Homo sapiens: one gene and its partner. Each later gene encodes a partner of the first gene's protein in a complex. Each region holds a gene or a part of one and is shown in the gene's direction. Other genes may lie near its edges. The genes, in order: AFTPH and SYNRG.

Region 1 (3,481 bases):
GTCAGTGATCTCTGTCCATTTCAGTGAGTTTTCATTTCATCTACTTAGGCTATATTCAGATTTCTCCAACTATCCTTTCTCAGCTTTGTACAAACCAGTATTCAATTGAAGACTATTGTACCTGGCTGTTGGGGCTCTTAAGTCCCTTTTAACCTAGCATATCTCCTCATTCCTTCTGTTTTCTTATTAACAGTAGCTTATATAAAGATTAGTATAGGTGTCCTACAGAATGTCCTAAAAGCTCTGGATTTGTCTGTTTGCTTCCTTCAAGTAATATTTGCTGTGTTCTCTATCTCCCTATTTTCCTGTAAATTGGAAATTATATCTAAAGGCTTGCTGAATTCAGGGTAAATATTTTGGCTAGAATGCATCCTAGGTGTTATATCACATCAGAAGATCCATACATCTGGTTGACTCCATTGTTAGTGGTGCTGAGATTGACGATTGGTGAGAAACTGACCTTTTCCATTATACAGTTCCAGGTTTTCACTTGTCATGTATCTGGTTTTACTTTGGAATGATGCAGATATCCAGTTCCCCATCAAACGTCCACATAATAGTTTTGCCACTATTTAAGTGCAATTAAAAATGTAGATTTTCATCAGAAAAAAATGTTGGATTGCTATTCCATTCTTCTAAGAACCTAGTACTGAATGCAGTATTTGGTTCATCTGCTATATGCCTGATGCTTTTTCCCTTTTGAAAAACTTTAGTCCTAAAAGTCGTTGGATTTTTCATTCATTCTATAAAATCTTTTTATTTCAGTCTGGATTCAAAGTGGTAACAGAAAAGTCCTAGGAATAAAAAAGCCTGTAGCTATCCTTCCTTTCTTGCTTTACCTCCTGGCTTCCTGCACCCCATCCAAGGAAAAAGGAAACATTTAGGTCAAAGAAATACCTTGTGTCACATCTAAGAATACCAGCTATCCTTTACCATAAAAGAGAATTATTAGGCTTTTTATAATGAACAACTTGAAATGATTTTTGGTCTAAAGCGAATAATATGTATAACTACTCCTTTAATATATTTAATATCCCAGAAAAAGTTTGAATTGCAATCATGTGCCCAATTTGAGGCTCATTTGGCATTTTCTGTGGCTCACCTGCTGAGTAGACCTGGGTCACCAGGCATTTTCTTGTCTGTGTTAGGCACCAAACTGCTAATTTCCCATATCGGGGGCCAGTGCAGCAAAATCTACTTCATCTACAGGACCCATAGGATTTGAGATTTCCCTCACCCAGAGTTCCGTCCTGCCTGTGTACGTGCATAATAACACCAGCAACCAGCCCTAGTGCTGCTGCTTTTGGACCTGCTGTCTGTATCCCAACAGGCTGAGACTGGGTCTTCTGAGCTGAGAGCTTTCTCTCCTGGAATTCCCCACTGGGGATAAAGAGAGCCTGAGGTTAAAATGACTTAGTCTTTCCCTGGGCACACTTTGTTTCAGGCTGAGGTAGTTTTAGCGGGTGGAGGGGCAGGGAAAAACCCAGTTAGGTGGAGTGTTACTAAGGCTTCAGATTTATATTTCTGTTTAGTAACATTTTAAAATTATGCCTGGGTAGATGCTTCTAGCCTAATGTAAAGGCTAGAAAGTACACGAGCTGTCTAGGTGTGCATGTGAGTATCTGTGTGTGCATGCCTAGCTTTAATGAACATAAATAGGCCGCACGTCACTCTTCATGAGATTTGGCATTTGGCACAGGAAGCATACTGCACAAAAGTATTACAAGATTCAGGAACTAGCAGAGGAAAAAATACTCAAGTCCCCACAGATTGCTAACTGTCTACCTTGAGAGTGGATTGTCTCCCATTTTACCTACAGCAAAGTCACATTAACACACTTGTCTTTTTTTCATTTGTCAGTAGGAAACCGAAAAGAGAAGAGCACCTAAGTGAAGAAGCTATCAAGGTGATCGCTGGCCTTCCTGACTTAACATTCATGCATGCCAAGGTGTTGATGTTCCCAGCCACGTTAACACCTTCCACAAGCTCTCAAGAAAAAGCAGACGGATAACTGATGTGAATTGGACAGTTTCTATTGCTTTTCCTTTTTTCCATCCCTTCCCTACCATCAAAAGCATACCTGCTCTAATTAAAAAAAAAAAAAAAAAAAATTCAAGTTCAGCTGATTTGTTGGTAAGCCGCACTAGAAAGGTATACATAGTAATGTATATTTATTTACATACTGAAGTCCTAAATTTATATTAGAAAAATGTAAATAATCGGGGGTAAACATTTTTGAAGATTTATTCTTTTTGTGTTGCTGGGGTGTATACATTTATGTCTTTGTGAAATACACTGGTGGTGTCCTTCTTACAAAACTTTTGAAATAAAAAAAAAACTCAAATCTTCACTGTCTGTGAAATCCCCTTCAGTCTTTTCAGATTGCATTGACTGTCCTCTTGATTTTTCATATTACATGTCAAATTACTTTTGCTATCATAAATAAGCTCCAAAGTCCCCCATTTAATTTTTTTTTAATTTTGTGTATGATGGGTTTCAGATCTGGCTTTTGTTAACATTTTGGGGCTTTTTTAATCTTTTCAATCTGGCGTATTGCTGTTTGACCTTTTGCAAGGTACTTAATTGCTCTTTTGTTATAGGGTATGGATCATTGTCAGAACTTGATTGGAGGGGTTTAAAGAGATTGTGTCTGTTTAAAATCAGTATGATTCAGAGAAGGACCAAATTATATGAATGTCTTACAATGGAATTTACTTGTTACTGATTTTTTTGTTCTATTGTACCACTATTTTTTGAGGATTTTGCACAGTGTAAAATGACATAATCATAGATTGCTATGGTTTAGGCTGTATATACAGTGAAAACTATGGGTTTTAAATGTTTGGGGAAATTCCTATGGAAAAAAGAGAGACATGTAGAAGAACCTCTAACAAGGTTAATGTGCATGCCCAAGGTCTTTTGAAATTTCAGTGTGTAAATTTCCTTTTAGCTTATACAAAAATAAAATAATTTAAAAGAAATTTAGCCTGGTGTCTTTGTACTTTGGTATGTGAGGAAAAATGTAATGAGTTTGAATGAGAAGTTTTGTTGAATATTAACATATTTCAATCCAGAGAAAATCTTTGGTAGGGCTTCTACTTTGTTGAAGCCAGGAAGAATTAGAATCTGGCCTATAAGAATTGGATCAGCACTTTTAGTAGCTGAGCTGTTTGTTTTTATATAGAACATGAGATCAGTAAAGAAATTCCCATGATTCATTATAATGTGTCTTCATCAGAGTATTGGCAAGGTTAAATAGGGATTTGTAGGGATTTTTTTTCTTTCCAAGAATATATAAGCGTGAAATGAAGGTAGGCAGAAAAAGTCTAAAAATTTTAGAATATTAGATATTGCTTCAGCAAAAAGTCACATGACATTGCATCAGGAACAGGCAGTCAGCTGACAGTCGGCCTCATCCACTCTGGGAATGTGCCAGTGGAACTCCTGCACCTCTGTCATTGGCAGATTCCTGTGTTGCCAG
Region 2 (7,303 bases), on another chromosome or scaffold:
AAAGGGCAAAATTTGCCCAAGAGATGAGAAGTATAAATTTTTTTTTTCTTTAATCAAGGCAGAAAAAAAAAAGAGTTGAAAGATCTGGATTAGTCTGTAGTCATTGAATGCTTACATGGGTAAGGTACTGTTCTTGATGCTGTAATGAATTAAAAAGACATCAAAACATGGTCCCCATCCTTGGAGAATGTACAAAATAACTGTGGTACAAAGTAAAGTGGAACAAAGAGGTCACGTTCTTCTGGGATGTTATCATCTGTGAACTTGTCTATTTTTTCCTGATCTTTTACAAGCTTTTAGAGGGCTTCCTCATCTTTTCTTCTTTCACTGCTTCTAGCACATTTTTGCACATAAAAAACATTCTGTAAATATTTGTGGATTTCAGCTATATCAAAGGCAAAGAAGTGGTATTTCATTTGGCCCACAGAGTTAGAGGAAGAGGAAGCGGTCAAGAGATCGTCACAGAGATGGGAAGGCCTAGTCAACACTAAGGAAACGATGTACCTGCAGTGCCAGATGACTGTGGCTCTGAGTGGCAGAGAAGAGTTTTGTGAGATAAAACTGCAAAGTAGAGTTGTGCCCAAACTAGAGAGGGCCTTGAGTTTAAACTAAGGAAATTCAGTTTCAGGGAAATCATTTCATAGTTTTAACTTCAGGGGTGCGTCTTGCTAAAGGACCATTTAATTATTGCGTAATGGTCCATCATTTAGAAAGATGTCTCTCACTTGTGCTGCATCAGATGAATTAGAAACCAGAGTCTGGAGGTGGGGAGATCCATTAGGAAGTCTTTATGTAGGAGTTTAGGCCTAAGAAGTGAAGCCTAGTGTCAAATCTAGGTTAGTAGCAAAGGTAACTGAAAAGGAGGGACGGATGAGATAGGTAAGTGACAGAGCTCTGCTTTCATACCGAGATGTCAGTAATATAAGAATTAGTGGTTTTACCTTTGAAATTAAATTGTTGGTCACCTTCCTGCCCAGTTTTTTGCCAAGCTTTTACTGTCTTATTAATGCCTTAACTGCTTATCTAACCAATCTTTAAGCATGTTGTTATTAGTTGTCTAAACATTTCAGAGAAAAATATGAATTTTTCATAGGTCACTAAGCAGTTCGATTTGCTAAATTCTTACTAGAGAAAGTCATGTTTGACAGTATTTTGTTTTTATTTCATTTTCAAAGTAACCTTTATACATCTGTTTATGTATTCATGTCTATGTGATTGTCTTAGCTGAGACTTTAGCAGCCTTGATTCTACGTCCTCATTTGACAGAGGGGAAACCAGACAGGGGGTAAAGGAGATTGCACAGAGCTTCACAGTTACTTTATGGCAAAGCTGGAAGAAAGAAAATATACACGAGTTTCCAATTCTTTTGAGCCTCTAGGCCATATGACTAATTTAAATGTTTAAGCCTGATTTTTAAAAATCTTGACAGCTTGATTACTTAAATGTATTCATTGCTCCTGAATGTATCAATTTTAGCATATGAGTAATGTCTTTAAAAACTGAATACAGGCATACCTCATTGCAGTTAGCAGATACAGTGTTTTTTATAAATTGAAGGTTTGTGGCAACTCTGCATTGAGCAAGTTTATCCGCGCAATTTTTCCACAGCCTGTGTTCACTTCATGTCTCTGTCACATTTTGGTAATTCTCACAATATTTCAAACTCTTTCATTATTATTATTTGTTATGGTGATCTGTGATCAGTGATCTTTGATGTTACTAGTGTAATTGTTTTGGAGCACCACAAACCCAGCTCGTATAAGACAGCAAACGTAATTGATAAATGTTTTGTGCAGTCTGACTGCTCTACCTACCAGCTGTTCCCCGGTCTTCCTCTCCAAGGGCCTCCATATTCCCTGAGACATAACAGTATTGAAATTAGGCTGATTAACCCTACAGTGGCCTCTAAGTGTTCAAGTGAAAGGAAGAGTCGCCCATCTCTCCCTTTAAATCCGAAGCTAGAAATGATAAAGCTTAGTCATTAAGTGTTGAAAGCTGAGGTAGGTCAAAAGCGAGGCCTCTTACACCAGTTAACTAAGTTGTGAATGCAGAGGAAAAGTTCTTGAAGGAAATTAAAAGTCCTATTCCAGGAAACACAAATGTTAAGAAAGTAAAACAGCTTTATTGCTGATATTGAAAAAGGGTGAGTGGTCTGGATAGAAGATTAAACCACCCTTAACATTCCCTTAAGCCAAAGCCTAATTTGAAGCAAGATCCTTAGTCTCTTCAATTCTGTAAAGGCTGAAGGCTGAGAAATAGGTGAGGAAGCTGCAGAAGAAAAGTTGGAAGCTAACAGGTCAGTTTATGAGGTTTAAGCAAAGAAGCTATCTCCATAACAAAAAAGTACAAGGTGAAGCAGCAAGTGCTGATGTAGAAGCTTTAGCAAGTTATTCAGAAGAGCTAAGATCATTGATGAAGGTGGCTACGCTAAACAATAGATTTTCTTTTTTTTTTTTTTTTATAGACAGAGTCTCACTCTGTCACCCAGGCTGGAGTGCAGTGGCGTGATCTCGCCTCAATGTAACCTTCGCCTCCCGGGTTCAAGTGGTTCTTCTGCCTCAGCCTCCCCAGTAGCTGAGATTACAGGCACGCACCACCACGCCAGGCTAATTTTATATTTTTAGTAGAAATAGGGTTTCACCATGTTGGCCAGGCTGGTCACATACTCCTGACCTCAGGTAATCCACCCACCTCGGCCTCCCAAAGTGCTGGAATTACAGGCATGAGCCACCATACCTGGCCAGATTTTCAATGCAGGTGAAGATGCCATCTAAGACTTTCCTAGCTAGAGAGGAGAAGTCAATGTCTGGCACCAAAGGACAGGCTGACTGTCTTGTTAGGGCCTAATGCAGCAGGTAACTTTAAATTAAACCAATACTCACTGACCACTATGAAAATCTCAGGGCTTTTCAAAAGTATGCTAAATCTACTCTGCCTATAGTCCATAAATTGAACCACAAAGCCTGGGTGACAGCACATCTGTTTACAGCATGGTTTACTGAGTATTTTAAGCCCATTGTTGAGACCTACTTCTCAGAAAAAAGTTTCTTTTGAAAACGTTACTGCTTCTTGACAATGTGCCTGGTCACCCAAGAGCTCTGATGGCAATGCATGAGAAGGTTAATGTTCTCATGTCTGCTAAAGCGGCATCCATTCTCCATGAATCAAGGAGTAATTTCTTCTTTCATCTCTTATTATTTGAGAAATTCATTGTAAGGCTATATCTAAGGCTATAACGCCCATAGATAGTGATTCTTTTGATGGAACTGGACACAGTAAATTGAAAACTTTCTGGAAAAGAATCACCATTATAATTTTTATGTTATTTATTGTTGTTGTTGTTGTTATTATTATTATTTTGGAGAGATGAGGTCTCACTATGTTGCCCAGGCTGGTCTCAAACTCATGGGCTCAAGCAATCCTCCCACTTTGGCCCCCCAAAGTGCTGGGATTATAGGTGTGAGCCACCAGACCCAGCCATTCACTAGATTCTCTAAAGAGTATCTAGAAACCTCCTTTTCAGATCCTTGACTCCCGGATTAAGAGCCTTTCTCACTCAGAAGTCTTCCTTGATTTGTCCCTTTTTCTTTCCAGGCTCAGAGAAAGAAGTCCCACTTCCTTTTCAAAGCAGATCCCTTTTGCTACTTTGTTTTGTTTTGTTTTGTTTTGAGACAGAGTCTCCTTCTGTCATTCTGTCTGCTCAGGCTGGAGTGCAGTGGGGCAATCTCAGCTCACTGCAACCTCCGCCTCCTGGGTTCAAGCAATGCTCATGTCTCAGCCTACTGGATAGCTGGGATTACAGGCACATGCCACCACGCCTGGCTAATTTTTGTATTTTTAGTAAAGATGGGGTTTTGTCATGTTGACCAGGCTGGTCTTGAACTCCTGGCCTCAAGTGATCCGCCTGCCTTGGCCTCCCAAAGTGCTGGGATTACAGGCATGCACCACCTCATCTGGCCCCCTTTTGCTCCTTCGCGTGTTAATCCCATTTCCTTAAAAACCTTATAAATCACTAGGTATGTATTTTGTCTCTTAAATTTTTTCTCCCTAGGGTCTCTTCCCCTTTCTTTGTTGAAACTAACTCACTTAACAATCACCATTTTTGAAAGCAGTGATTTATTTTTTAATCTTCATTCTCACCGCTATTCTACAGCATTAGACACTGGTAACTACTTCCTTGTTGAAATGTGGTCCTTCTTCAGTTATAACTCTCAGTTATAAGCACTCCCTTGGTTTTCAATGACCATTTCCTACTCAGTTTTCACTGCAAGAATTCTCCAAGTTTGTCCTTAGTTGTTTTGTTACTGGATATATGCCCTTGGCTATTTCATCTACAACCAGAGCTTAATTTTTTTTTTTTTTTGAAACGGAGTTTCACTCTTGTTGCCCAGGCTGAAGTGCAATGGCGCGATCTTGGCTCACTGCAACCTCCGCCTCCTGGGTTCAAGTGATTCTCCTGCCTCACAGCCTCCTGAGTAGCTGGAATTGCAGGCATGCACCACCATGCCCAGCTAATTTTGTATTTTTAGTAGAGATGGGGTTTCTCCATGTTGGTCAGGCTGGTCTGGAACTCCCAACCTCAGGTGATCCACCTACCTTGGCCTCCCAAAGTGCTGGGATTACAGACGTGAGCCACTGCGCCTGGCCAGAGCTTAACTTTTTAACCTTTATTTATTTATTTATTTGAGACGGAATCTCACTCTGTCGCCCAGGCTTAACCTTTATTCAAAAGAGCCTAGGCCAAGTGCCGTAGCTCATGTCTGTAACCCCAGCACTTTGGGAGGCCAAGGCAGGCAGATCATGAGGCCAGGAGTTCAAGACCAGCCTGGCCATCATGGTGAAACCCTGTCTCTACTGAAAATACAATAATTAGCCAGGTTTGGTAGTGCTCGCCTGTAGTCCCAGCTACATAGGAGGCTGAGGCAGTAGAATCACTTGAGCCTGGCAGGCGGAGGTTGCAGTGAGCTGAGATCATGCCATCACACTCCAACCTGGACGACAAGAGCAAACTCCGTCTCAAAAAAATAAAATAAAAATAAAGTTGTCAGCTTAAAAAAAACCTTAGAAGAGAGCTTTCTTACGCTCTAAAATGAGGACTTATTGTTTAATGGGTACAGAGTTTCTGTTTGGGATGATGGAAAGGTTCTGGAAATGGATAGTGGTAATGGTTGACAATATTGTGAATGTCCTTAATTATGCCATGGAATTATACACTTAAAAATGGTTAAAAATGATAGAATTTTATGTTATGTATATGTTACCACAATAACAATAAAACCTCTGACAACTTCATATAATATTCAAAATAAAATGAAACATTTTAAAGGCCCTTGACCAGGTGCGGTGGCTCACACCTGTAATCCCAGCACTTTGGGAGGCCGAGGCGGGTGGATCACCTGAGGTCAGGAGTTTGAGACCAGCCTGGCCAACATGGTGAAACCCTGCCTCTACTAAAAATACAAAAAATTAGCCAGTCGTGGTGGCGGGTGCCTGTAATCCCAGCTACTCAGGAGGCTGAGGCAGGAGAATTGCTTGAACACAGGAGGTGGAGGCTGCAGTGAGCCAAGATCGCGCCATTGCACTCAAGCCTGGGCAACAAGAGCGAAACTCCATCTCACAAAAATAAATAAATAAATAAAAATAAAAATAAAGGCCCTGTACAATCTGCTTGCTTTTAAATCATATAGTTAACATTTAACCTACATTCATTTCTCCAAACATCCCTGCATCTCTGCCTCAGAGCTTTTGCTCAAAATATATAGTGTGCTTCTATTTTCCTTCAAGATTCAGCTCCAGAGCTACTTCCATAAAACTTCTCAAGATATAGCCCATTAAAATTCATCTTTTTCTTCTCATCTCTATTAATAATTTGGACCTCGCTTATAGCAGTTAGCACATTTACCCTGTGGTATAGTTATTTGCCTGCATATGTGTATTTTTGATTATAAGATTCCATCATTTCATGTAGTTGACACTCAATAGATGTTGACTGAATTGAATCTAAACTCTCTCATTTTATAGATGGGGAAACTGGAATCCAGAGAGGACACGAAGTGACAGAGCCAGGACTAATTTCAGGGTCTTCTGTCTTTTGTTTCAACAAGTTTCCGTCTGCAGTAGCATGCTGACATGCATCCTATGGATGCTCAGTGTACTGATGTTGGGCAATTCAGTATTGTGGTGCAGAACAAACACCAGGTCCCATCTACAAGTCTTTTATCCATATAAAAAAGTACACGTGTTATTTGAAATCTTTGTACATACGAAGATTATAATGTATTTTTATTCTGTTTTCAGCTTCATGTTTCCTGTTGCAGGTGGGATAAGACCCCCTCAAGGTATGTGAGAGCTTAAGTTTTGAACTTTTATTTTTCACTCTTGTGTTTCTGAATCTGGGAATTAAATAAGTAAATAGAAAATAAGTTCTGTTGCTGCTGAATAGAGTAAAATTTTCTGCACTCTTAAACCTGTATGTCCTATATGACAGCTACTCTTAAATTTTCTCAAAAATTATATAATTTTGGGAGTAATAAGGATCACTCCTCGTTTCTCCCAAACTTACATAGACATTATGTTCATAGATTGTTTAACCTCAGAGGTGAAAGACTTTTAGGACAAGAATGTTAAAGAACAGGTGATAAAAATGAAACGAGCTGTAATTCACTTAATGATGTCTTTCTCCTTCTATCTAGTCTTCTGCTAGATTGTTAGTGCCATGTCTGTCTAATGCTCATCTAGCATTATTTGTAGCACCCAGCATGTTGATTCAGCACAATAGGTTATCTGTAGATGTTTGTTGAATGAATAAACAAACATCTTTAGTTGTTTTACACTGCTATTTTTTATCTATATGATAGTATCTTATTATAATCATGTTTTATAAATATATAATTTTGAAATTAAAAGAGATCACATAGTCTGATTCAGCTTAAGTATTTAAGTCTCAGGATTTTGTTTGGTTTTTTATTTTTATTTTTGAGATGGAGTCTCTTGCTCTGTCGTCCAGGCTGGAGTATAAGTGGCACAGTCATAGCTTACTGTAGCCTCAGCCACCTAGGCTCAAGCATTCCTCCCACCTCAGCTTCCCAGGTAGCTGGGACCACAGGTGCATACCACCACGCCTGGCTAATTTTTAAATATTCTGTAGAGACAGGGTCTCCCTATGTTGCCCAGGCTGGTATCAAATTCCTCGGCTTAAGCGATTCTCCTGCCTTGGCCTCCCAAAGCACTGGGATTACAGGCATGAGCCACCACATCCGGCCAAGTCTCAGTTCTATTCCTAGAAATTTCTCTAAGTATACCT

What was found.
Region 2: AFTPH (region 1) and SYNRG share a complex: the UniProt entries of both Homo sapiens proteins name them as parts of the aftiphilin/p200/gamma-synergin complex.

What each region holds. Positions count from the first base shown.
Region 1 is NC_000002.12:64,590,025-64,593,505, forward strand, and holds the end of AFTPH (aftiphilin), read left to right. Parts: intron 1-1,860; coding exon of another isoform or gene 1,861-1,863; coding exon 1,864-2,011; 3' UTR 2,012-2,981; downstream 2,982-3,481. UniProt on the Homo sapiens protein: Component of clathrin-coated vesicles.
Region 2 is NC_000017.11:37,599,398-37,606,700, reverse strand, and holds part of SYNRG (synergin gamma), read left to right. Parts: intron 1-6,297; coding exon 6,298-6,338; intron 6,339-7,303. UniProt on the Homo sapiens protein: Plays a role in endocytosis and/or membrane trafficking at the trans-Golgi network (TGN). May act by linking the adapter protein complex AP-1 to other proteins. Component of clathrin-coated vesicles.